Homo sapiens: one gene and its partners. The protein of the gene in region 1 interacts with the protein of each later gene in a pairwise test. Each region holds a gene or a part of one and is shown on either strand. Other genes may lie near its edges.

Evidence for each region.
Region 2: the proteins of CDHR3 (region 1) and PARVG interact in binary tests that used the Homo sapiens proteins (3 or more experiments, as listed by UniProt).
Region 3: the proteins of CDHR3 (region 1) and ARHGAP25 interact in binary tests that used the Homo sapiens proteins (3 or more experiments, as listed by UniProt).
Region 4: the proteins of CDHR3 (region 1) and NEIL2 interact in binary tests that used the Homo sapiens proteins (3 or more experiments, as listed by UniProt).

The regions. Positions count from the first base shown.
Region 1 is NC_000007.14:106,022,245-106,029,279, forward strand, and holds part of CDHR3 (cadherin-related family member 3 isoform 1 precursor), read left to right. Parts: coding exon 1-204; intron 205-2,136; coding exon 2,137-2,318; intron 2,319-4,437; coding exon 4,438-4,451; intron 4,452-6,306; coding exon 6,307-6,338; intron 6,339-7,035. UniProt on the Homo sapiens protein: Cadherins are calcium-dependent cell adhesion proteins.
Region 2 is NC_000022.11:44,204,909-44,208,988, forward strand, and holds the end of PARVG (gamma-parvin), read left to right. Parts: intron 1-848; coding exon 849-921; intron 922-1,408; coding exon 1,409-1,518; 3' UTR 1,519-3,561; downstream 3,562-4,080. UniProt on the Homo sapiens protein: Plays a role with ILK in promoting the cell adhesion and spreading of leukocytes.
Region 3 is NC_000002.12:68,800,803-68,807,837, forward strand, and holds part of ARHGAP25 (rho GTPase-activating protein 25), read left to right. Parts: intron 1-5,926; exon of another isoform or gene 5,927-6,137; intron 6,138-6,470; coding exon 6,471-6,678; intron 6,679-7,035. UniProt on the Homo sapiens protein: GTPase activator for the Rho-type GTPases by converting them to an inactive GDP-bound state.
Region 4 is NC_000008.11:11,779,701-11,786,735, reverse strand, and holds part of NEIL2 (endonuclease 8-like 2), read right to left. Parts: coding exon 6,786-7,035; exon of another isoform or gene 6,214-6,785; intron 3,534-6,213; coding exon 3,337-3,533; intron 774-3,336; coding exon 463-773; 3' UTR 1-462. UniProt on the Homo sapiens protein: Involved in base excision repair of DNA damaged by oxidation or by mutagenic agents. Has DNA glycosylase activity towards 5-hydroxyuracil and other oxidized derivatives of cytosine with a preference for mismatched double-stranded DNA (DNA bubbles).

The DNA of each region.
Region 1 (7,035 bases):
GTCACACGCCTGCTGCTTACATCTCGCTTTGACTATGCTGGTGGGTTTGATAAGATCTGGGACTACAAGCTACTTGTCTACGTAACTGATGACAACTTGATGTCTGACAGGAAGAAAGCGGAGGCTCTTGTTGAGACAGGAACAGTGACACTGAGTATTAAAGTCATTCCCCACCCAACCACTATCATCACCACGACCCCCAGGGTAAGGGCTTTAGGACCTGGAATCCCCAGGCACATTCCCTTGTGAGTTATGTTGATGGACTTCTTTCCCCGGCCTGGAGGTATGTGGGGTGGACTGAAGAGTTGAGGTATTAGGATGTTGCCAAAAATGGCAACCATGGGCTGGACTGGAGTAGCTGCAGGGTGGCAAAAATCTGGTGAGACCTCAGACTCATAACCGCTAACTCAACCACTAACATTTCCTGTTCTGGTAGAGAAGAGTGTGTTGTTTGTGCAGAGACTTGTGAGAGATCAGACCTCAACCATCTGTGTGGCTTGTGGCACAGGAGCTGATTTCCATGGGCATGCTGCCAGTTGCTACCTTCACAACCCCTCTCTGCTTGTTCAGAAGAGTCTTTGCAAGTCAATATCCATGAAATTAGGTTGCTTGCTTACTGCTGGGTGCTCTTTCCCACATCTTTTGAAGAATCACCAGGTACCAATCTGTACCCTACACCCCACCTCCGCTCCAAAAAAATTCATCCAATCTACAAATATCGATTTAATGCCTATAGTGTGCCAGTCACTTTAGCAAACAAGCCAAAAATGATCCCTGCTCTCAGAAAGCTTATTGTATAGGCGAGTGATTCTCTAAGTGCGGTCCCTAGACCATCAGAATCAGCACCACCTGGAAACTGGTTGGAAATGCAAATTCTCAGGCCCAGCCTAGATTATTAAAGTTATAGGTTACCCAACCATGATCATCACCATGACCTCCAGGGAAGGATGCTGGAACCTGGAATCCCCAACTCTATCCCCTAACCTAATGAATCCGAAGCTCTGGAGGTGGGGTCCAGTGAGCTGTGTTTTCAATCAGCCTTTCAGGGAATTCTAATGTGCATTAAAGTCTGAGAGCCACTGATCTAGAGGGGGAGATAGATTACAAACAAGTATTCAAATTGACAAAGTAAATACAGACTGTGGGAAAGGGTAGGAAGAAAATGACCAGGTGCTATCACAGAATTGGCCTGGAGAAGGAAGGGAGAGCCTTGAATCTGACAACAGGATTATCTTCCCTGCCCCTTGGAGGAACTGGCTTGCATCTATGCTGACTCATCTGTCCCCTTTCTTCCTCCTCCTCTTCCTCCTCCTCCTCCTCCTCCTAGTAGAAGCTGCACCCCTGGTCAGCAGCCTGATACCTGCAGCATGCCAGAAGGAAGATAATCAGAACCTTAGAGAACCCACTATGGAGGTGGCCAGCTTCTTCTCAGAGTCTTGCCAGGAGCTGGTTCATGCTTCTCTCTCCCATGCTCGAGTCAATATGACCCCAGTGAATGGAGGCATATGGCAACCCTAGGACTTTCCTTGTGGGAGGAGCTGGTAGGCTCTCCTGAGTGAGGAGTTCCCACCTTTCTTGGGCTCAGAGCATGACCTGATTGTGACATCTCCAATCCTGAAACCTCCGTAACTTGTTTGTTATCTGTCTCCAGCTCTAGGAAGCAGATGCTGAACTTGAGGCTTTGCTGTGATATCAGCCCACTGCTCTGGCAGTGGCAGCTTGTAGTTGAGAAAACACTGAAAAGCCTACAAGGCATTTAAAAAAACAACTTTCGTGGCTTATGCTGTCTCGGTGAGAGACAATGGCTATATTCGTCCCTGGGTTATGCCCAGATATGGCAGAAAAAAAGCCAATGGAGTTTTTTTTAGCTTTGGGGAAGGGGAAGACAGAGAATAAAATAAGGCCTAGAGTTGTTTTTCAGTTCCCTAAAATTTCTGGGTTTTGATCTAATGGATGTCTGCAAAGACTATAAATAAGGTGATGGGTTGAAGCAGCAAGAACTGTGAGCACACAGATGTCCAACTTATAGAGCAATAACAATAACAAAGAGTGGAATAAACACTCAACACGAGAGAGTGCTGAATGTCAAAATCACTACCACCCTCTACTCACCCTCCCTGCTCTCTGTTGTTCAAGCCCAGGGTCACCTATCAGGTCCTGAGGAAAAACGTTTACTCTCCATCTGCATGGTACGTGCCGTTTGTCATCACTTTGGGCTCCATATTGCTTCTGGGTCTCCTCGTGTACCTGGTCGTCCTATTGGCCAAAGCCATCCACAGACACTGCCCCTGCAAGACTGGGAAGAACAAGGAACCTCTGTAAGTTGCCAGTGGGCTGGGCCCTCTTCCCCACCTCCTTTAGGACACTGTTTCTGGTGACATCAGGAGAAGGAAAAATGGAGAATCAGGATTTCTCTACAAGGCAGGTTGCCTGGAGTGAAGGCAGGAAAAGGAGATACGGGGGAAGGAATCCCAGCTCCCCTCGGTCCTGGTGCACTTTCTTTGTCACCTGCTAGGCCAGGAAACCATCCTTTTGGCTTTCCCTGGCAACCTACTCTGTCCTTGAGGCTCTTAATAAGACTGGGGCATCAACCTTCTGATGACCTTGCCCTGGATAAAATCTTCAGCAAAGCCCTGTTGTAAATAGCGATAGAATATGCCGTGCTCTTATTTGTAGAATATTTAAAGGATAGTATGGAATTAAGGCAAGCACACAAAACCAATAAGGGAATTAAGCTTTTGTCTCCAGTGACTCAGCCGGGTTTTTGTGTGACCAAATAATTCTTGGTGTTTTGCTTGTGGTCTCAGTCTCTCACTCTTAAGGGTTGTAAACGCAGGCCTGTTTTCTCTTTTTCCAGTTTTCAGCTGCCCACTAATATGCCTCTTATTGTGCCAATCTGTGATGTGTCTTTTACTGGCTAAAGTGAGGTAGTAGAGTGACGTGAAGAGAGCACCAAAGAATCACAAACTTCTCCCAGAGCCAAGCTCCTTGATTCTCAGTAGCTCTTACAACTTACAGCTTAGATGGTTCTGAGCCTGAGTTTTGGAGTTAGATGGGCCTGAGCTCAAGTCTTAGCTCTACCATTTTCTTGGAATATGGCTTTGAGCAAGTGACCACCTCTGTGAACTTGAATTTTCTTATTTGTAAAATTAATCAACTAAATGAACAAATGTAAACAAGGCACTTAACTGTATTCCTGATATAGAGTAAATGCTTAGTACACTACCCAGCCAGTTTTTACAAATCTTGTTTCATTATTCTTCACAGATGAGTCCCAATGAGTTCAGGATTCTAGATTCCAAGTTTAGCTCTATGCCCAAGTATCTTGAGGTGTTGGAACCTCTGAGTTCTAGGATCTCTCAATGGCAAAAAGAGGGGGTGATAAGACATGTGTGCCTTTTACGGGTATTTTAAATATTAAATATTAACTGTCAAATAAGAAAATCTATGGATGAAAGACTGTATAAAAGTACAAGGCATTAGAATAAAGATGTGCGTTGCATTTTGCCATATTTATTGCGGAAGTTTGTTGCTATTGGCAACCTTGACTTCAAGGTAAGAAATCCTCGAGCATCTGCTGAAATTAAAAAAGGCATTTTTGTTTGAACTCTATTCACAAATTGATTTTTTTAAAAAAAAACAGCTCTAAAAGAGTAATTGCTTGTAAGGATGGTGGTGTACTGTACTGGGATTTGGATAGAAGTTCTTGAAGAAACAAATCCAATAGACACTGCAACTCTCATGTAATTTATGGCTAAACGTTAAATATGCACCTTGAACCTGGTTCTTTTAACTTATGTTGTAAATATTAATTGTTTTCAACATGGTTGACTTAAAAAAGAAAAACTAGCTAGAAAACCAGACTCAGACTCAACCTCTCTGGAAATTAGTTATACCATATGACAGCCAACTTTGTCAAATAGCAAAGAAGAAAATTAGGGTTACAGAGCTATAGAATCCAAGGTGATCATGGGAAATCTCGTAGGGTCTGAGTCCAGCTCTTCATGTGACAGGAAACCAAAATGTAACTGCCAGCTCTCAAACCTCCCTGTTGTGAGCCAAGCCTTCTGCTCTGCTGGCTCTTGGGGAGAAAGGGATAGGGCAAGAAGACTCGCTGGACAGTCTGACTAGGGCAGGCATGTCCTCACCAGGTTTTCTCATCAGAAACAATGTATTCCCTGAAGTTTATAAGGTGATACTTTTCAACTCATCAAATTCCCAGAACCTCCCTAGTCCAAAGCCAATAGTGATGAAGCTGCTTTGTTCGAAGCAGGCGTGGTGATCTAGTTTTCTTTCTGGCCCCTATCCCTGGCACCTCTTTCAGTCAACCCCTGTATCTCAAAGGGCATAGTTGCCCAAAGAACCCCATGGTGTCATGTGTGTGCCAGTGCAGCATACTTTCAAGTGAATTAATAGCCATTCTTTTTCCCCCCATAGGACAAAGAAAGGAGGTATGTACAGTACCTGTTTCCCTTGTCTGTTGTTTTTTGCTTGCTCTGTTGTGCTACGTAAAAAGGTTCCTACTCGGCAAAGAATCAGGCCGCGATCACATCTTGGAGCATTTTCAGCTGCATCTTCTGTGGCTGGAAGGAAGCGGAGGTCGGTTGCAGCTGGAGAATGGGAAGGGTGGGGGGACAGTGCCTTGGCCTGCCTGGATATCTCAATTTGGTCCTGCCTATGCCCTACCTAGAGCCCTCGCCAATCAGCTCAGCTGAACACCTAGGTCTGTCCCTTGCTGCATGGCACAGGAAGAAAGAACTCTCCGTGTGTTAAATGTAGACAGGACCTGCTTACTGCAGCCCATGGAGGGTGTCCTGAGGACAGCTAATGCTTTGTGCTGGACACAGGCCTCTTTTGAAAGAACAGATAAGGCTGGGCGCAGTGACTCACGCCTGTAATCCCAGCACTTTGAGAGGACGAGGTGGGTGGATCACAAGGTCAGGAGTTTGAGACCAGCCTGGCCAGCATGGTGAAACCCCCGTCTCTACTAAAAATACAAAAAATTAGCCGGGCATGGTGGCACGCACCTGTAGTCCCAGCTACTCGGGAGGCTGAGGCAGGAGAATTGCTTGAACCCAGCAGGTGGAGGTTGCTGTCAGCCAAGATCACGCCACTGCACTCCAGACTGGGCGACATAGTGAGACTCTGTCTCAAAAAAAAAAAAAAGAACAGATAATATTTGATTCCCAGATTCTAATGGATTTGATCATTTCCACAAATTATTTAGGTTAGACTAGTGAGAAGGGGGAGATGAGGGTGGTGAGATGGGCTGAGAGCTGACTGACTTCAGAGAAGTGGGTAAATTGGGAAGGTCCATCTGAGCAGCTCCAGGTCTGAGGAGGTGTCCTGGCTTGGCCTCAAGTAGACTCCAGAGTGTGGGGGAGACAGGACAAAGAATTGGACAGTGTTTTAATTAAAAAAAAAAAAAGTTTGCTTTAATCACTCCATCTACAGGCATGTGTCTGACATGCTTAAGGCATGTCTCAACAGGGTTAGAAATTTGATTATAGTGGTTATTGATCATATTGACAGAGATGATTTTAATAAATGAGATTTTCACAAACTGTCTCTAATCCCACTTTTTAAAAAGGGGATGGGGGCTGGGCATGGTGGCTCACACTTATAATCCCAGCACTCTGGGAGGCCAAGGCTAGAGGATCACTTGAGCCCAGAAGTTCGAGACCAGCTTGGGCAAGATAGTGAAACCCTGTCTGTAGAAAAAAAATTTTTAAATTAGCTGGGTGTGGTAGTGTACGCCTGTAGTCTTAGCTACTGGGGAGATAGCTGAGAGGATCACTTGAGCTCAAGAGGTCAAGGCTGCAGCGAGTTGTGACCGCACTCTAGCCTGGACGACAAGAGTGAGACCCTGTCTTAAAATAAAATAAAATAAAATAAAATAAAATAAAATAAAATAAAATAAAATAAAATAAAATAAAAGGGCTTGGGAATTAATGCACAAAACCCACACCTTATGAACAGAGGTATCCAATCCCATCTTTCTTTCTTATCTTAAAAGCCATGTAAAAGCCAGTTTTCTAGGTCCACTGATAATAAGCTAGAAAAAGAATAAAAAACAACTAAATTGTTCGTATGTTATTGTGTGTGTGTGTATACATATGTGTACGTATTTTTTTCTGAGAAGATGGAAAGTTGTCAAGAAACATATCTATAGACAGAACAATTCTTTGCTGTGTCTGCAAGACTGAGATCGAAGCCTATTTAGGGGAAATACCGTTGTGGAGGTGGAATTTTAAGGTCAATTTACCACCCAAGAAGCTTAACTTCTGCCTGTTCTGTTCTCTGCAGAAACGAAGACTGCAGAGAGAGACGTCGTGGTGGTGAGTATGGGCAGTGTGGGGCACCAGGCATAGACGCTGGGGGATAGGGGCTCCCGTCTCCCCCGAAGGCAGGCCTGCCACAGCCTTGTGGGCATGTTTATCATTCAGGGAGGTGCTTGTGTTTGGCTACTGGAACAGATTGCTGTGTGACGAGCTCCTGATAGAATTTGTTCCCTCCACTGAACATGCCTGCTGATATATTTGCAGAAGAACAGGATTTCATAAATATTGAGTAGTGGTGTTTATTATCTATACCAGCTCTCCACGAGAGTGAGTTGAGGGAGTGAAGCTTAAAGACCAAAACTAGTGCTTCAGCCTCCAGTGAGATTTAAATTTTCTTTCTTTCTTTCTTTCTTTCTTTCTTTCTTTCTTTCTTTCTTTCTTTCTTTCTTTCTTTCTTTCTTTCTTTCTTTTTAAGACACAGTTTCACTCTGTTGCTCAGGCTGGAGTGGAGTAGCACAATCTCGGCTCACTGCAACCTCTGCCTCCTAGACTCAAGCGATTCTCATGCCTCGGCCTCCCAAGTAGCTGGGATTACAGACACGTGCCACCACGCCTGGCTAATTTTTTGTATTATTAGTAGAGATGGGGTTTCACCATGTTGGCCAGGCTGGTCTTGAACTCCTGACCTCAAGTGATCCACCCACTGTGGCCTCCCAAAGTGCTGGGATTATAGGCATGAGCCACTGCGCCCAGC
Region 2 (4,080 bases), on another chromosome or scaffold:
CTAGAATGGAAAGGGAGGGGACCTACTGTGGGAGGGCCGGCAGGCTCCTGGGCTCTCACCATATCCTGTAGCAAGGCACAGGGGAACTGTGGTGAGCCCACTTTGCAGGGGAGCAAGGGGAGGCCCTGGGCAGGGACTAAGCTGAGCTCTGAATCACTGGGGGACTTGACTGATGCCCGGGCGCTCTCCACCCTAAAGGGAGCCATCTCTGAGACTGCACCCCAGGCAAGGGGTGGCGGAAAGGACAGCCACCTGGGTGGGGACCGCTCCAGTCTCTAGCCTGCTTTGCATGAGCATTGGAGCGGACAGACCTGGTTTGAGCGCTTTCTGTCTCGTGAGCTCCAGTGAGCCCCTTGGCTCCTCTGAGCCTTGATTTCCTCACTGTGCTTTGCCCTGGGAAACAGCTGTTCTCAAAGGTGCTCTGCCACCCCAGGCCCTTGCTCCTTTCCCTGGGTAGTTCTCCCTGCCTGGCGGGACTCACCACCAGGCTTCACCTCCACCAGGAAGCCTTCCCTGATCCCTATTGGGTATCCTCCTTGGCGATTGCCTTTTTCACGGGCAGTGGCCCCTGGACGCAAGCGTGTGCCCAGTGTGGTATAGCACCTGCTCAGAGTGGGGCCTGTGAGTGGCTGAGGAATGAGACATGGATTGCTTGTGTGACAGAGTGAGCTGTAGGGAGATGCTGGATGACCACGGATTGTGGTCGTGGTCAGGGATGCCCACCTTGGATGGGAGTTTAGGCTCATGATGGACATCACAGACAACAGGAAGGGCTTGGCACTTGGGACCCAAGGCCTGGCCTGGGGCTGCTGCTTGTGCCCACATCTGATAGGGCCTTGTCATCATAGCTGCACAACGTCACCCTGGCGCTGGAGCTGCTGAAGGACGAGGGCCTGCTCAGCTGCCCTGTCAGCCCTGAAGGTGAGTGCAAGGCAGATGCCCACACGGTGGCCAGCCCTGGGTGGCAGCCTTGTGCGAGAGCCACAGAACAGGGTGCAGGGCATTGGGGGATGAGCACGCATTGGCAGAGTCCTCTTGCCTGGCAGGGGTGGAGAATGGGCGCTTGCCAAGGTTTCTTGGGAGGGGGCACTGCAGCCCCAGGGGAAGAGGTTCTGGGGAGGGGGAGACCAAGGTCTCTGGGGACAGGTTGTCCAGAGAAGCCAGACCTTGAGGAGTTGCTGTGTTGGGGGCACCACAGGAGCATTCAGAGGAGGACTGGCCAGGAGGAGGAGGCAGTCACGCAGCAGGCGCGGGACCCAGGCCTGGAGTGACCAGCTGTCCTGGCTTCCAGGGATTCTCCTGGGATTAGCACTGAAATCCTGAATGCCAGGAAACCTTGACCACATCGGGACAGTCGGTCACTGCCACCCAGGCCTGACTGGCTGCCCTGCCCTCCTTTGGCCCGCAGATATCGTGAACAAGGATGCCAAGAGCACACTGAGGGTGCTCTATGGTCTGTTCTGCAAGCACACGCAGAAGGCACACAGGGACAGGACGCCCCATGGAGCCCCGAATTGACCCTCACTGCCTCCAAAGCCCAGAGCCTGCCTGTCAGCCCAGCTGGAGGGCCCGAGGCTGCAGGGTGTCCTCCCACAGTCCCGCTGTTTCCTGTGCATTCGTGACCCGCTTCCCTCCCACCCTGTCTCCTGTCTCCATCGTTGGATTATCTTTGAACCCCCTTGTGTGGATCATTTTGAGCCGCCTGGCCTTGCTCAGTTTATTTTAATAAAAGTATTTCTGGGAGGGATTCTGGGAACTTGACAGGGTCCTGAGGAGGGCCCTTAAACCTGCAGCCTCCCTCCCATGGGGTGAGTGTGTGTCACATCAGTCTCTCATCTCTGGGCCCAGGCTAGTGACCGCCCAGAGAGGTGGCATCACTCAGGGCTGGGGACTCTCAGGGACAGGGCCCACAGCCCCAGACCCCACCTTTTCCAGCCCAGCTCCCCACACCCACCTGCTTCTCACTCGGGAGGATGGGCCCCAGAGTCACCCTCCAGGGCAGGAGCCCGAATGGCTCCATAGCCATGCCCCCACCCACCGGGAGAAGTGGATTCAGTGACTGTCAAAGCAACCCGGGCTGTGTCCTGCAGCTGCCCTCGTGAGTTTTGCCCAAAAGTCACAAAGAAGCAATCTTCGTGGTTGATTAGTGGGTTCAGGTCATCTCCAGTCTGTCCTCGGGAGCTGTGGGTTCCCACTCGCTCCAGTGAGACTTGGCATTTTCTGCACATAAAGAAGAGTCGTGTGGGAGAATTGCACATAGTCAGTCCAGGGCATCCAGAGTGGGGCAGAGCTGATGGCTGATGGGAACCGGGGAGGAGGCTGGCGGGGAGGGGTGAGATTGGTGGGGAGGGCTGGGGCTGGCCGGGAGGGGTGGGACTGATGGGGAGGGGTGAGGCTGGCGGGGAGGGGTGAGGCTGGCGGGGAGGGGTGGGACTGGTGGGGAGGAGTGAGGCTAGTGGGCGGGTGAGGCTGGCGGGGAGGGGAGGGTTTGTGGGGACGGGTGAGGCTGGCGGGGAGGGGTGAGGCTGGTGGGGAGGGCTGGGGCCTGGTGGGGAGGAGTGGGACTTGTGGGGAGGAGTGGGACTTGTGGGGAGGGGTGAGGCTGGGGAGAAGGGCAACCACAGCCCCAGGCTGCTGCTCCTCCCTGGACCCTGAAGAGGCCTCTGGGTCTGGGGTTTTCACAGTTTGACAGCTGAGGCCTTGGGGAGGGGCTTTAGATGGGGGTTAGGGGCTAGGTCATCATTGACACCCACTGGGGGCGCCTAGGCAGATGTCCTTCGGGGGAGCAAGATGGGAGCCAGGGACGCAGTGCCAGGTCAGCCCTGGGAGCTGGTGTCTGGGTGTGAGAAGGCCTTGAGGGGTCTTCCCTTCACCTAGCCTCCCATCTGCCTGCCCTTCTCAGCTCCCAATTCACAGGGCAAACCCAAGCCCATAAGCGTGTTCCACGTGAGCACTCAGATGCACCCCTCTTCATGGATACCCACCCTACTTCCCGGCTGCCTCTGGGAAACGTGCATCCTCCCACACCAGGTACCTGGAGCCCAGCTCCTTCCACCTGCTCAGGTGCCCCCTCCATTGCGATGCCCCCTCCAGCACCTCAAATCCTCTCCTGGAGCTTCTGGGGACACAGGCTCAGCCTCTCTCAGCTGGCTTCATCCCAAAAGCCTGAAATCCAGCCCCACTTCCTGGGGCCTTTGAGTCCTCACTTGCTTGGGCCCCATCCGCTGCAGGCTGGCTCTGCCTGGCTGTTCCACGTCCTCACTCTTGTTCTATTTGACAGCAATTAAAAAAAAAGTGACTTATTTAATTACTGTAGCTTTATTGAAAAATAACTTCCCAGTTTGAAGTGTACAATTTGATGAGTTTTGACAAATGCATGCAGTCATATAACCACCACCATCGTTATCCAGACATGGGACATTCCCATCACCATGCAAGTTTCTGCATCTGTCTGCAGCCAGTTCCCTTCTCCCAGCCCCTGGCCCTGGGGACCACTGATCTGTTTTCTGTCACCATCATTTAGACTTGTCTAGAATTTCTTATAAACTGTATCCTATGGTATGTTGCTTTTTGTGTCTGATTTCTTTCACTTAGCATAATGCTATTGAGAGTATCTCCATTGTTTCTTGTATCAACAACTCATGTCCTTAGTACATTCAAAAATAAGTCCTCCAATTTTGTTCTTCATTTCAAAAATTATTTTGGTTTTTCTAGGTCTTTTTAATTCTTTTGGTTTCTACATAAAATTTAGAATCAGTTTGTCATTTTCTGCAAAAAAGCCTGCTGAAATTTTGACTGGAATTGTGTTCTTTAGATCAAACTGGGGAAAACTGACATCTTAAAAATATTGGGGAGCTAAGATCACTGATTTGAGAATATTTTTCTTTTATATAAATATTTAATGCTGGATTTTTTTTTCTAAGCACAGCTTTAGCTGCATCCCACAGATACTAATATGTTGTGTTTTCACCTTCATGAAGTTCAAAATATCTTCTAGTTTCAAATGTGACTTCCTCTTTCACTCATGGGTTATTTAGAAGTGTATAATTTCCAAATATTTTGGGATTTTTTTTCCAGCTA
Region 3 (7,035 bases), on another chromosome or scaffold:
GTCAGTTCTCAGCATAAAATTAATGTCATTAATTACATTGGTTAATAGTTATAATTATCATATTACATATATTATAATTACATTATGGTAATTATATTACTTATAATTATTATAATAAATTCATGAAAATTTATACCTATTAAGATGGAAATGCTCTGCTAATGGCCAAAGGGGTGACAATTAGGACCCAGAGGTCAGACACTGGTATAACTCAGGACCAGGTCTTTGGAGTTCCAGGGATGTTTCTGATTCCAAACTCCTCATGTGATCTGAGATTAAGAGTGACAAAACCTGACTTAGCCAAGCTAAAAAAAAACAAAGATGATTTTTCTCTCATGTAAGAAGTGACACTGTTGGTCCTGATGTCTCCAGAGCATCCAGTGGTTGGTTCTTGTTGAGAGAATAGCTTTGACGGATTTCTAGGCTGCAGATGTCAAGTTCAAAGTCTTCATCATATGGGTGATATTTAAAGTGGTGAGACTCTGAGAAAGTGTGCAGATGAGGGAGGGAGGCCCTGGGACCCTCCAACATGTAGAGGACAGCAAGGACAGGAAGAATCCTCAGAGGAGGCTAAAAGCATCTGATGAGACACACGGAGAACCAAGAGGGACTGGTGTGCCAAAAGCCACATGAGAAAGTGTCCCAAGAAGAAGGAGGTGGCTTGCTGTATCACTTGCTGCTGATAGAGTAGTTAAGATGAAGACAGAGAATTTCATCTCAGATTTTAAAATGTAAAGGCCATTGGTCTCCTTGACAAGAATAGGTTTGGGGAAGTACTGAGTAGAGAAAAGGGGCAGAGAATGGGAGGAATGGGAGGCAGCAGGTAGTGACAGCTCTCTGAGGTCCATCACATACCAGGTTCTGAAAACAGATGCTGAGCCAGATGGACTGTCTGCCTTTGAGGGGTCCACAGTCCAGTGGAAGAGAGGGATGTTTAAGTGAATCATCATAAAATTACATGACAGTGATAACATCGAGGAACACACAGGGAGCTCTATGAGTAGAGGAAAGAGTGACCAGTTTTCTCTGAGAAGACATCCAAATTCAGAAGACTGGGTTTCCAGGTGGAGAGTAGGAGGAAGGGCATTCTCTTGAGAATTTTTTAAAAGCAAAAACCATTTTTCATTCTTCCTTTCATACTCTCTAACTATCAAAGAGCCTGGCCCACAGCAAATGCTCAGCCTACATTTGTTGAATGACTTTGTGAATTCTGGTGGAAGGAATTTGCAAGAAACAGAGTTGCAAAAGAAACCATTATAACGATATAGGCAGCAGCAGTGGGAATAGGGAGCTTGTTTAAAGCATATTTGGAATGTACCAACCTAGGCCGGGCGCGGTGGCTCATGCCTGTAATCCAGCACTTTGAGAGGCCAAGGTGGGCAGATCACGAGGTCAGGAGATCGAGACCTTCCTGGCTAACACGGAGAAACCCCGTCTCTACTAAAAATACAAAATATCATCCAGGTGTGGTGGCACGTGCCTGTAGTCCCAGCTACTCGGGAGGCTTAGGCAGGAGAATCTCTTGAACCCGGGAGAAGGAAGTTTCAGTGAGCCAAGATTGCGCCACTGCACCCTAGCCTGGATGACAAAGCAAGACTCCATCTCAAAAAAAAAAAAAAAAAAAAAAGAATGTGCCAACCTATTTGGGGAGAGTGAAGAGTGTTGCGGATAATTCTAATGCTCACAATTTTGCTAATTGGGTTAGTTAAGTGCAGGTACCTTGTATTAATGGCTTTGTATTTTCAGTGCCTAGGAGAGTACCTGGCACTTGATGATGGAATGAAGCTATTGCCTTTGAGGAAGGCTACAGGAGAAGCAGTGATTTAGGGATGGGATGATAGTGAGATTAGAGAAGATACTGGGAGAATTGCCATTAGACATTGAACTTATGGGAATAGAGGAGAAAGAGAGAGAGAGAGAGAGAGAGAGAAAAGATGGAAATAGATATGATATAACTACATATACAATGATAAAATAAAACACTTTTTTTATGAGTATAATACTAAAGAGAGAAAAGCAAATGTTGGTCATTTGCATGAGAGCTGAGGTGGGGGATTATTCTTTCATAAATTATATCTATCAATCCATATGTACACACACATATATCCATATATACACATATATCCATATATACACATATGTGTGTGTATATATATACACACACATATATACACATATATATACACACATATACATACATACATATATATATATATAGAGAGAGAGATCTGGACCAGATATGCAGATTAATAAGTTATAAGTTTATAGGTGATATCTAAATGTGTGGAATCATATGCACTTTCCTAAGGAGAATACTAGAGTGAGAAGAAAAGAAGCCTGAGTTGGAATCCCAGGAAATGATGCACCAAACGAGCAGGTGGAAGATGGAGCACAGTCAAAGACACTTGAAAGGAGTCATCAGTGACATGAGCATAGAACAGGAATGATTGGATTTATTGCAATGTAGGGAGAAAGTATTGAAGAGGAAGGAGAATTAACAACATCAGTCTTCAGAGAAGATCAGTAAGTAGGGTGTGGAATGAACATTAGGAGAGCACTAGAAATCTTAGTGAGCAGATTTAGTGAAGAAGTGCAGGCTAATGAAACCAGATTGTGATGGGTTGAGAGGCTGAGTAGTGAGTGATAAGTGAGGAAGTGGGGCAGACATCTCTCTAGAAGTAGACATTTTTATTACAAGTATATGGTAAAGAGAAGGAAGGCAAATGTTGGTCATTTGCATGAGAACTGAGGTGGGAGATTATTCTTTCATAAATGGCAAAGACTTAGACCCACGTGGGATCTTTCAATTGAAAGAGAAAATTTCAACATACAAAGAGAAACAGTAAGTACTGGAAGAGATGGAAGGAATGGAACCCACAGTTCAAGAAGGCATCATCCTAGATGAAAGGTAGGGCCCTTTTCTTCCTCTGGGAGAAGACAGGAACACAGAGGAGAAAGGATGGGAAAGGCAGGGACTGGAGATGAGGGAGTTCACTCGTAACCCTCCATTTGATAATGGAAGGAAAGAGGAGCCAAGATCACCTGTTGAGACAGAGAAGGGAGGGAATGGGTGGGGAGCTCAACAGGAGTGGCAAAAATTTGGAACCAGTGTCTTGCAGAGATTGGAAGGATAAATTTCCACAATATGGTTGTGCATGGTCTTTTGTAGTTCTCAGTGGCCTGATGAAGACACGCAAAGGGTAGTAGGAAGCAGCAGGGCGGGGATGTTGAAGAAAAAAGTATGGGTCAGATTAATATTGAAAGGGCTGCATTTGAGGCATGAGAGAAATAGAGGATGAAGGCAGGACAAGGCTGATAGACTGGGATGAGGAGAAAAGCTAGAGAACTAGACATATATTAAGGTGCAAGAAGGAGCTTGGCCCCAAATCATCTGCAAGGTGGAGCATCTCCTATAAGACCTCAGAAATGGAGCTTGAATTTGAAAGCTTTGACTTCTCTGTGCACATCCTTACATTGTGTTTGTGCTATCTTTCCCCATCAAGTCCAGTGGACCTCTGGAGCCTGAGTTTCAACTGTTCCAAGAGACATCTGCCTCTCTCATTGAAGGGCCCCTCTCTGGACCTCTCAAAAGAGAATTTTCCTGATGCTATCTGGTCTGTTTTAAGTCGGAATATTTCAATCATGTCCTATCAATTTGGTGAAAAGATCTGTCCAGCTCCTTTTACAGACAAATAGAAACCTAATTCCATATGGTTATTGAAATTTTCTAATTGTTTCTCACCATGTTTTGTGTGACCCCTCAAAGGCAGACAGTCCATCTGTTATGTTATTTTCATAACTTGTTGGCAAACTCATTAAAAGCAGGAACAAGGTCTTCCATGTCCCTTGTCTGTACAACCCATTCCATGGAACCTGGTGCTGGCACATGGCAGGGCACTCAATGCATGCTAGTGGGAAGCTGAATTCATATATCAAGGAGATTCCTATTAGTGTTTAAACTAAAGAAATGCCGAATAACCATTAGTCATGTGAAATACTTGCTTAAAGACAAATTGATTCATTAAATCCTTCAGCAAAATTTGTTGACTGTCTACCTTTTGCCAGGGGTTACACTAGACATTGGGGATGAAAACAGCCTTTCCTCCTATTCTCAGTAGCAGGGAGCTTACAATCATGCAGATGACACAGGTACATACAAATCATGATCACAGAGTGCGGGAAGGATTGGGATATTCAAGAAACAATACGGTGCACAGAGTAGGATGTAGTCCCTCCATCTGGATGTCAGGAAGGCATGGCAGATATGATGATATTTGAGAGGGGCCAAGGAGGAGAAAAAGAATTTTGTCCTCTTTGTCCTCCTGGTGCAGCCAGGGAAGGGGGAGAGCAGACTGGACAGGGAGGAGACTGTTCAAGGACATGGAGACTGCAGAGCATTACGTTTTGGAAACGTCAGTGTGAGTTGCTTCTTGGGGCATGGCAGGACATCAGGCCAGGAAAGCAGGTGGGTGCCAAGCCTTGAGGAATGCCAGCCTTGATTCTCAAACTTTAGCCACAGAAGTATCTAATCACAGTCTCACCGCAATGCAATAAGTGAAACGAACAACAGCCAAGCAGATTTGGTGGTAGTGGGGAATACAGAGGCCACCTATTCAGCTCCTTCTAGATTCCACACTCTCACCTCCCAACACCTGATGTGATGAAAGAGGAGTCCCTGATGAACTGCCAGGGCTTTAAATGTCTATTTGAAAACCATCACTGTGGCAGTTGGGAGAGAAGCAGATGAGTACTGAAAACCAAGAGAAAGGCGCTCAAGCAGAATGATGCTTTAGAAAGGCAAGCAGCAGGAGGGTTTCGAACATGATAGAGAGAAGAGACTGTAGCGGTTACAGGTGAGAGAGGAGGCTGGCCTACGCTGGGTAGTGGGTAGGAGCGGAAAAGAACATGAGGGTCAAGAGCCTGGTACAGCTCTATACAGGTGGAATCCACAGGAACTCGAGGTGGGATGGAGGGGACCAACGTGAGAGAGAGAATCATGGGGAGAGTCAAGTGACTTTGCAAACGGATGTCCTAGGGATTGAAGTGCTGGGTGCAGCAGAGCCCTGATTATGGCAGAGGGAAAGTCACGCAGGACAGGACAGAAGCCACGGCCTGTCTTCTGAACCTCCAGGGTATGGAAGCCTGGTGGGAGAATGGATAGGCAGTGGTTGTCCTGATTTGTAAATTTGTCTTCTCACACTGCCGGTGCGGGGAAACTGTGGAGCAAAGTTTCTCCACGCAGACAGAGCTGGGGTGGAGCTGGCCCACACTTGCTTTGCTGGAGGCAGGGTAATTTGGGAAAATATTTTTGGAAAGCAATTTGCATGCCATCAAGTTATAAAAATGTTCAAACCTCTTGACCCAGTAATTCTACACTTGGGAATTTGTCCTAAGGAAATAGTTCAAAAGAATGAAACGCTTTTGTTCATGCATCCAAATGTTAATTAATTAGAAATTATGCATTGTACTGCATACATTCCAGGATCTCTGCCAGGTGAATGAACGTGTTTGCTGTGGCAATGTTTATAATTAGGACATAGTAAACAACCTAAATTATTTTAAATGCCACAGTGGTTTAGTGAGATGAAACATCTATGTGATAGACTACAGTAGTCCCTCTTTATCCTTGGGGGGATACATTTCAAGACCGCAGTGGATGCCTGAGATCTCAGGTAGTACTGAACCCTATACACATTATGTCTTTTCAGTCTTATAACTGAGACAACTACTAAGTATAACTGAGACAACTACTACGCGACTCCTGGGCAAGTAGTGTATATAACGTGGATACACTGGACAAAGGGATGACTCACATCTTAGGCTGGACCGAGCGGGACCGCGAGAGATTTCATCATGCTACTCAGAATGACATGCAATTTAAAACTTATGAACTGTTTGTTTCTGGAATTTTGCATTTAATATTTTCAGACTGCAGTTGACCGTGGATAAGGGAGGATGCCATACTGTGTTATGCTTTACTACTCTGTGACGCCAGTGGAACTCAAAACGGCCTGCTTGCTGCCGTGGTTAAGGCATATTGTTGGGAGTTCACTGCCTAGGCCTGAATCCCAACTGTGTCATGCTCTGAGCTGCCTGACTTTGGCAAGTGTCTAAGGCTCAGTGTCTTTAACAGTAAGGTGCGTGTGACATTAATACCATCTCATGGGGTTGCTGTCAAGGTTAAAGGACAAAAAGTGTGCAATTCCTAGCAAAAGAATTCAGTAAAAGCCAACCATTATTTTAAATATGTAAGAAATGTGGGTCAATATAAAAAGACTGATAAAGACTGCCTCAAATTTACAGGCCCCTATTTATAGCTTCAGGAAATATTCTGAGTGATTTATCTCCCATATTTTGTCTAGTATCATTGCAATAAAACCTGTGAAGACACAGGTGACACAGAAAGTCAAGAAATAGTTCATCCAAGGAAGCACAGAATGACGGGCAGGTTCTGTTTGCTCTCTCCTCAGCAGTGTTTGGCCAGCGCTTGGATGAGACTGTGGCCTATGAACAGAAATTCGGCCCCCATCTGGTGCCCATCCTGGTGGAGAAATGTGCAGAGTTCATCCTGGAGCACGGCCGGAATGAAGAGGGCATCTTCCGTCTGCCTGGGCAGGACAACCTGGTGAAGCAGCTGAGAGACGCTTTTGATGCTGGGGAGCGGCCCTCCTTTGACAGGTACATTGCCCCACTGCAGTGTCCCACCTCTGCCCTCCCCTCTGCTTGGCTTGGCTGGGAGGGCCTCTCCATTCCAGTTGAGCTATGGGACTTGCATAGAGACTTCTAAGAGCCCTGGCTTACAACAGAAAGAGCCTTTGTTTCGCCCATGATTGGGAATTTGGGAGACGGGAGCACAGTTAGGAGAGTGTGCAGATAGTTTATGTGACAGATGATGTGAACCAGAACTGGAACCCTGCTGGGCAGATTCAGGTGATGTTTAAGGCACAGGAGAAGGTGATGTGCAGAGGAGGGGAGAAAGATGGGACGTTGCCTGAGGCTCACCCTTCAGGACAGATGAGGAACATGGAAGAGCTG
Region 4 (7,035 bases), on another chromosome or scaffold:
CCAGGGAGGGCAAGGCTGCCGTGAGCCAAGATCACACCACCACACCCTAGCCAGGGAGACAGAGCAAGACTCTCTCTCAAAACAAACAACCAAAAAAAAAAAAAAAACCCACATCATCTGCAAAGCTATGTTGGGAGCACAGCCATTTCCCATAGGCTTTCTTTTTCCTTGCCCCATTGCCTTCCGGGAAGTTTTCCCCTTACCCATCATCACGATTTTTCCCATCTTTCACGATGGTGCAATTCAACAGGATGAATTAACTGAACTAGAAAAGGATAAAAAAAATCTAACCCTATGAAAACTCTGCCTTCAACATAACTCCAGGGAGACGAATATTATACTACTGGCACCTCTGACCCACACTATCCTCTGTACCCCGTCCCTGCCCACATCCTCCTTTCTGGACACTTAGACGTCAGGTTCCCCAAGCGGCAAGGTTCCGTGAGGAGCACCACCAGCTCCTTAGGAGAACTGGCACTGCTCTGGCTCCTCTGACAACTGGGGCTGGCACTGCGGGCACCACCAGGTGAGCCTCTGTAACCCATCTTCGGGCCCAAACGCCTCCTTCATGACCTGGTGGCCAGCAGGGCACTGTTCTTTCTGGTAGACCTGTGTGTGCTGCGGTCTGCCTTGGAACTTGCCCTGCAGCCAGGCTGTACTGAACTCCACCACGTGATCCACCAGGACCTCCCGACGCGAGGCACTCAGGACTGAACCGAGAGAAAGGGGATGGATCCCAGCTCTGTACAAGGCTTCATTCTTAATGATGTTCCCTGAAATAAAGCGGGGGAAGGTAAGGGAAGGACAAAGGACACATGGCATGATGAAACCACCCACAAAGTTAACAAGGCAGAAATCAGCTCTTCCATGTCCTGGGGGACCCTAGACGGGTCTGCGATCTCTGACTCCATTTCTCTGTCTGTAAAATGGAGTTGACAATTCCTACCTTTAAGGTTGCTGTGAAGATGAAATGAAACTCATGCATGGCCCGTCATGGCAAACAGGCTATCAAAAACGGATCGGGCATCTGACTGCCTGCACTTGAATCGCAGCTCAAGCAGATCCTACCCACGTGACCCTGACAAGCTCCTCAGCCTCAATTAGCTGCAGTTTCCTTATCTGTAAGGCAGGGATGGCTTACCTGGTTTTTGTGAGCATTAAATGAGAATTCACCAAAAGACGCTGAGCACAGTGGCTGGTATGTAGAGTACTCAATAAGTATTAACTGTTGTTATTATTTAAAATGTTGGCCTGGCGCATTCCTGTAATCCCAGCACTTTAGGAGGCAGAGGCGGGTGAATCACTTGAGGCCAGGAGTTCAAGATCAGCCTGGACAACATGGTGAAACCCCATCTCTACCAAAAATACAAAAATTAGCCAGGCATGGTGGCACCTGCCTGTAATCGCAGCTACTCAGGTGGCTGAGGTAGGAGACTAGCTTAAACCTGGGAGGTGGGGCTTGCAGTAATCTGAGATTGTGCCACTGCACTCCAGCCTGGGCAACATGGCAAGACCCTGTCTCAAAAAAAATTTTTTTTTAAATTAAAAACAAAATGTCAAGCATAGCTAGGCACAGTGGCACACGCCTGTAATCCCAGCACTTTGGGAGGCAGAGGCAGGAGGATCATTTAAGCCCACAAGTTCAAGACCAGCCTGGGCAACACAGTGAGAGCTTCTTGTCTCTACAAAAATTTTAAAAATTAGTGAGGCGTGATGTCATGCACCTGTAGTCTCACCTACTCAGGAGGCTAAGGTGGGAGGATCGCTTGAGCCACAGAGGTTGAGGCTGCAGTGGGTTGTGATTGTGCCACTGCACTCTGGCCTGGGTGACAGAGAGAGACCCTGTGTCAAAAAATAAAATAAATGAAATACCAAGCATAATGCTTGTTATGTAGAAAGTGTTTCGGGAGCTGTTATCTTATTATTTTTCTACTCCTGCCTCATTCTCTGTGAAGCCAGCCTCGATCCCTCCTTCCAGAATCAGTAACTCTCTTGGGAATGTTCCAACCATACTCTTTCAGCTCCACCAGGCATTCATTGCAATCTTTAGTAACCCACAGTGGACTGAGTCCATGCTTGCTGGGCCATTATACAATGATCTCCTTAAGGAGAGGTGGTGAGCGTGACAGAGCTCAAGTGAGTGTCTGTGTGTTTGGAGTGAGTGGGTGAAGGAAATTCCTGCTGTTTCCAAGAGCCTCATAGTCACACTCCTCATTACACACATCAGTCTCTCCAGAATTCATTGACAAAACACCTGGATTCACATCTCAGCTGCACCATTTACTAGCGATGTGTTCTCTGCTTCAGTTTCCTCATCTGAAGGAAGGGAAAAGCACTATAACCATCCTACAGGACAGCAGTAAGGACAAGAACATGTGCCTGGCACATCAGAGCTGCTTGGAAAACACTGGCCGTTATTAATTACTACTGTTACTGTTAGCTCTTGCCATATATACCCAAAAAGCCACTTCCGACGGCTCTTCGCTCCTGAGTGCACAGGGACTCCCATGGTCCTAACATGAAAATGCAAGGCAAGTGCCTGCTGTACCACCTGGCCTCCTCCGACCCTCGTGAAGGGTGGTGAGCAGGCAGCAAGGCCACATGTTGGATATGGAGATGACTCTGTCACCACCAACCTGCCTGATTGCTTCAGCAACCAATTTTGGGCACAATTATTCCCCTACTGTGAGTAATAAGAACGCCACGCTGTCATAGTCCCGCTAATTAGCTGTTATATGTATTTTTGAAATTGTTCAGCACTTCTCCCTATCCTGAAATGCTCACAGTTTCACTGCTCACGCCACTGCAATAGAGAGAGGGAAACAGCTTCTTCACTCGCGTCGCATAAGAACCCAGTGTAGACTGAGTCATCTCTGTGCCCTGGCCAGGGCAGGAAGCTCCATCCACCCAAGAGCAGCATCCCTTAGAACACGCGCTCACTGCTCTGTTAGCAGCCTGCACGACTTCAGTTCCTACAGACACAGGTCAGGCACCTCCTACGTGCAGGCGCTGCACTGTGCAGTGGAGGGTACAGAGGTGCCGGAGACATGACCCCACCCTTTAGGAGGTGATGCTCCAACGCTGCTGGCAGAGGGCTCACAACTGATAACACAGTTAGGGTGTGGATTCTGAAGCAGAGAGACAAGTTAAAAACTGCCTGATCTAATGCCCTCAGTCTAAAAACAAGGGAAGTAAAAGAAAGGAGATTGAGCAAGTGGCACCTCAAAACCAACAGCACTGGCACAACTAGGGTGGCCCTCAGGTCTTCTGACTCCCACAGGACCGACTTTTCCATGAAGCAACTCTGTGGACTCACCCCTTTCCCATGAGTCATACCTAGCCCTGAGAAGTATCTCTGGTCCAGCAGTGTATAGCAGACAGGCTGAGCCTGGCCTAGAGCTTCTAAGGCTTGTCCTCGATGGAACTTCTCAGACAGGATGTCACAGGTGGGTGTGACCACTGGGGAAGAGCTCCAAGACAACTGACAATTATAAAATGCCAGGAAGCCACCACCACCAAAGTGCAGGACCAACCTGGGAAGAAAGAACAGGTCATATGTACACATCGTTACCACAGTATAGTCAGAGCACACCCTGTGGCTGGGTCATACACACATACACACATCCCCACATCGTTACCACAACATAGAGCACACTCTGTGGCTGGATCATACACACATACAGACATCCCCACATCGTTACCACAGTATAGTCAGAGCACACTCTGTGGCTGGATCATGCACACATACACACATCCCCACATCATTACCACAACATAGTCAGAGGACACTCTGTGGCTGGATCATACACACATACACACATCCCCACATCGTTACCACAACATAGAGCACACTCTGTGGCTGGATCATACACACATACACACATCCCCACATCGTTACAATATAGTCCAAGCACACTCTGTGGCTGGATCATACACACATACACACATCCCCACATCGTTACCACAACGTAGTCAGAGCACACTCTGTGGCTGGATCATACACACATACAGACATCCCTGACTTACAATGGTTCACTTTTAATTTTTGATTTTATAATGGTACAAAATCAATGCACACTCAGTAAAAGCCATACTTTGAGTACCTATAAAACCTTCATTTTCAGTACAGCATTCAATAAATTACGTGAGATATTCAACATTTTATAGAACAAGCTTTGTGTTAGATGATTTTGCCCAACTGTAGGCTAATGTAATTGTTCTGAGCACATATAAGGTAGGTTAGGCTAAGCCCAGATGTTTGGTAGGCTAGGCATATTAAATGCTTTTTTGACTTATAATGTGTTTTTTTTGAGATGGAGTTTCATTCTTGTCACCCAAGCGGGAGTGCAGTGGCACTATCTTGGCTCACTGCAATCTCTTCCTCCCAGGTTCAAGCGATTCTCCTGCCTCAGCCTCCCGAGTAGCTGGGATTACAGGTGCATACCACCACACCTGGCTAACTTTTTGTACTTTTAGTAGAGATGGGGGTTTCATCATGTTGGCCAGGCTGGTCTCGAACTCCTGACGTCAGGTGATCCACCTGCCTCGGCCTCGTAAAGTGCTGGGATTACAGGTGTGAGCCACCACACCCAACCTAATATTTTCAATACTCCATATACCCTTTCCATATAGAAAGGATATATAAAGCTAATTTTATTTATTTATTTATTTGGAAATAGGGTCTTGCTCTGTTGCCCAGGCTGGAGTATAGTGGCACAATCACAGCTCACTGCAGTCTCAACCTCCCTGGCTCAAACTACCCTCCCACTTCAGCCTCCCAAGTAACTGGGACTACAGGTATGCACCCCCACACCCGGTTAATTTTATTTTATTTTTTTGTACAAACAGGGTCTTCACTATGTTGCCCAGGCTAGTCTCTTACTCCTGGGCTCAAGTGATCCTCCTGTCTCAGCCTCCCAAAGTGCTGGGATTACAGACAGGAGTCAGTATTATACCTGGCAAGCTAATAGTATTTATTTCAAAGACCAACAAAGTAGATAAACTCAGGCCAGCCTATTAAAGAAAAAAGAGACAAAGCAAAGTAAACATAAAACAGGTACATGAGAAAAGAGACCTAACCAGGTAAAAAGAGATTTAAAAATAATGGCATGATACACATTCACTCTACGGCACTATATCTGAAAACCTAGGGGTGAGCCTCCTTCGGGGAGCACATTTCAATGCCTCCAGCTGGTGACTAATCCAGGACTCAGCAAAGGGCAGGCTCCTGATGATGACAGGTTTGCTGGGGGTTCTAAGGAAAGTTTCCTCATCTGAACTTCTAAAAATGATCTGCTCTTCTTCTGGATTTTTTGGTGTGAATAAAATCCTGGAGCTGCAGTAGCCTCTTGCTGCTGGTCTAAGGAGAAAACCAATGCGTGGAAAGTGCAAAGCCAGGAGAATCACAAAAACAGGAAGCCAGAACCTTGGAACGGCAGCCCCAAAGCCCACCCTCCTTCTGAACTTCCAGTCATGTGAGCCCAAAATCTCCAGACCACAGAAGCTACTCCGAGTTATTTTTACAGCCCATAGCATCCTATGGTACCTACGTCAGGCCACACAAATAAAGACTACACTTCTAAACATTTTTACAAGTTATAAAACTTCAGAAAATAGAAGGCATGTGACTTTCTCTGGGGGCAGAAGGGGCCTTTTTTTAGCAAAAGGGGAAACCTACAAGCAACCAAGAAAAATACCCACCGTTGATGATATAAAAATTTAAAATCCCAAATGCCAAGAGACATCATAAGCACAATCAAAGGACAGAGGACAGACTTGAAACAATACTGGCAACACATGTCACAAAAACAAACAGACTTTCTGTGCAAAAGCTTCATTACATTGATAAGAAGTACACAAACGACCTAACATTCATGAGATTTCAGCTCAGCTAGCACTTTCCTAAGGCCAGAAAAATGTACAGCCCTAAGAATATGCATTCCCTCTGACCAGCAATTACTCCTCTGGGAATTGACACTGAGGACATATCCTAAACCTAGATAGAGTCTTATGCATAAAATGTTGATCTCAACATTCATAGATTATAAAAACTGGGGCCAAGCATGGTGGCTCACGCCTGTAATCCCAGCACTTTGGGAGGCGGAGGTAGGCGATCGCTTGAGGCCAGGAGTTCCAGACCAGCCAGCCTGTCCAACATGGTGAAACCCCGTCTCTATTAAAAATACAAAAGTTAGCCGGTGTGGTGGCACGCACCTGTAGTCCCAGCTCCTCCGAGGCTAAGGCAGGAGAATTGGTTGAACCTGGGAGGCAGAGGTTGCAGTGAGGCGAGATCGTGCCACTGCACTCCAGCCTGGGCCAACAGAGCAAGACTCCGTCTCAAAACAAAGCAAAAAAACTCATCAAGCTGAATACTTAAGATCTGCATTCTACTGAATGTTAATTATATCTCAATAAAAAATAAACACACAAACAATATACTTAAAATAAAACTGGGAAAATCTTCTCCCTAAATTCAAAGCACACTAGTCAGGAGTCAGGCAATAAAATGTTCTTCAGGGACAGTCCCCCCTCAAGTGCCACATTTGCTGGGAAAATTCTCCCCTTCTCCCAGCCACCTCTTGGTGCACAACCCTCTCCTGCATGCAGACCACAGTCTACTTCCTATCACAGGTAGATACAGAGGTGGCCTCTCTCCCCAAGACAGCAGGGCCCTGGGGGGCAGACTGGACGTCCTCAGTATGTCCCCACTGCTGAAGTCCCAAACCCCACCAAGCAGGGCCCTATGACTATCAGAGCCCACGAAAATCAGATGGCCACACCATTACCTCGGGGAAGGGTCCCTCCAGTCCCCCCTCTTGTTGGCTTTCTTGGCTCTGGAGAAATCGTTCACCCAAACGCTGCCAAACAAACCAAAGCTGACACGCAGCCACCTCCCAGCATCTCCTGCAGGGGCGTCTCTCTCCAAATACTCAGAATCATCCTCGCCCTGGGGGACGAGCTCTGCAGACCGTGAGGATCCATCAAGGGTCTTCTGCCCGCTGGGCTCCCCGACCTGCTTTGGGTCCGCAGCCCCTT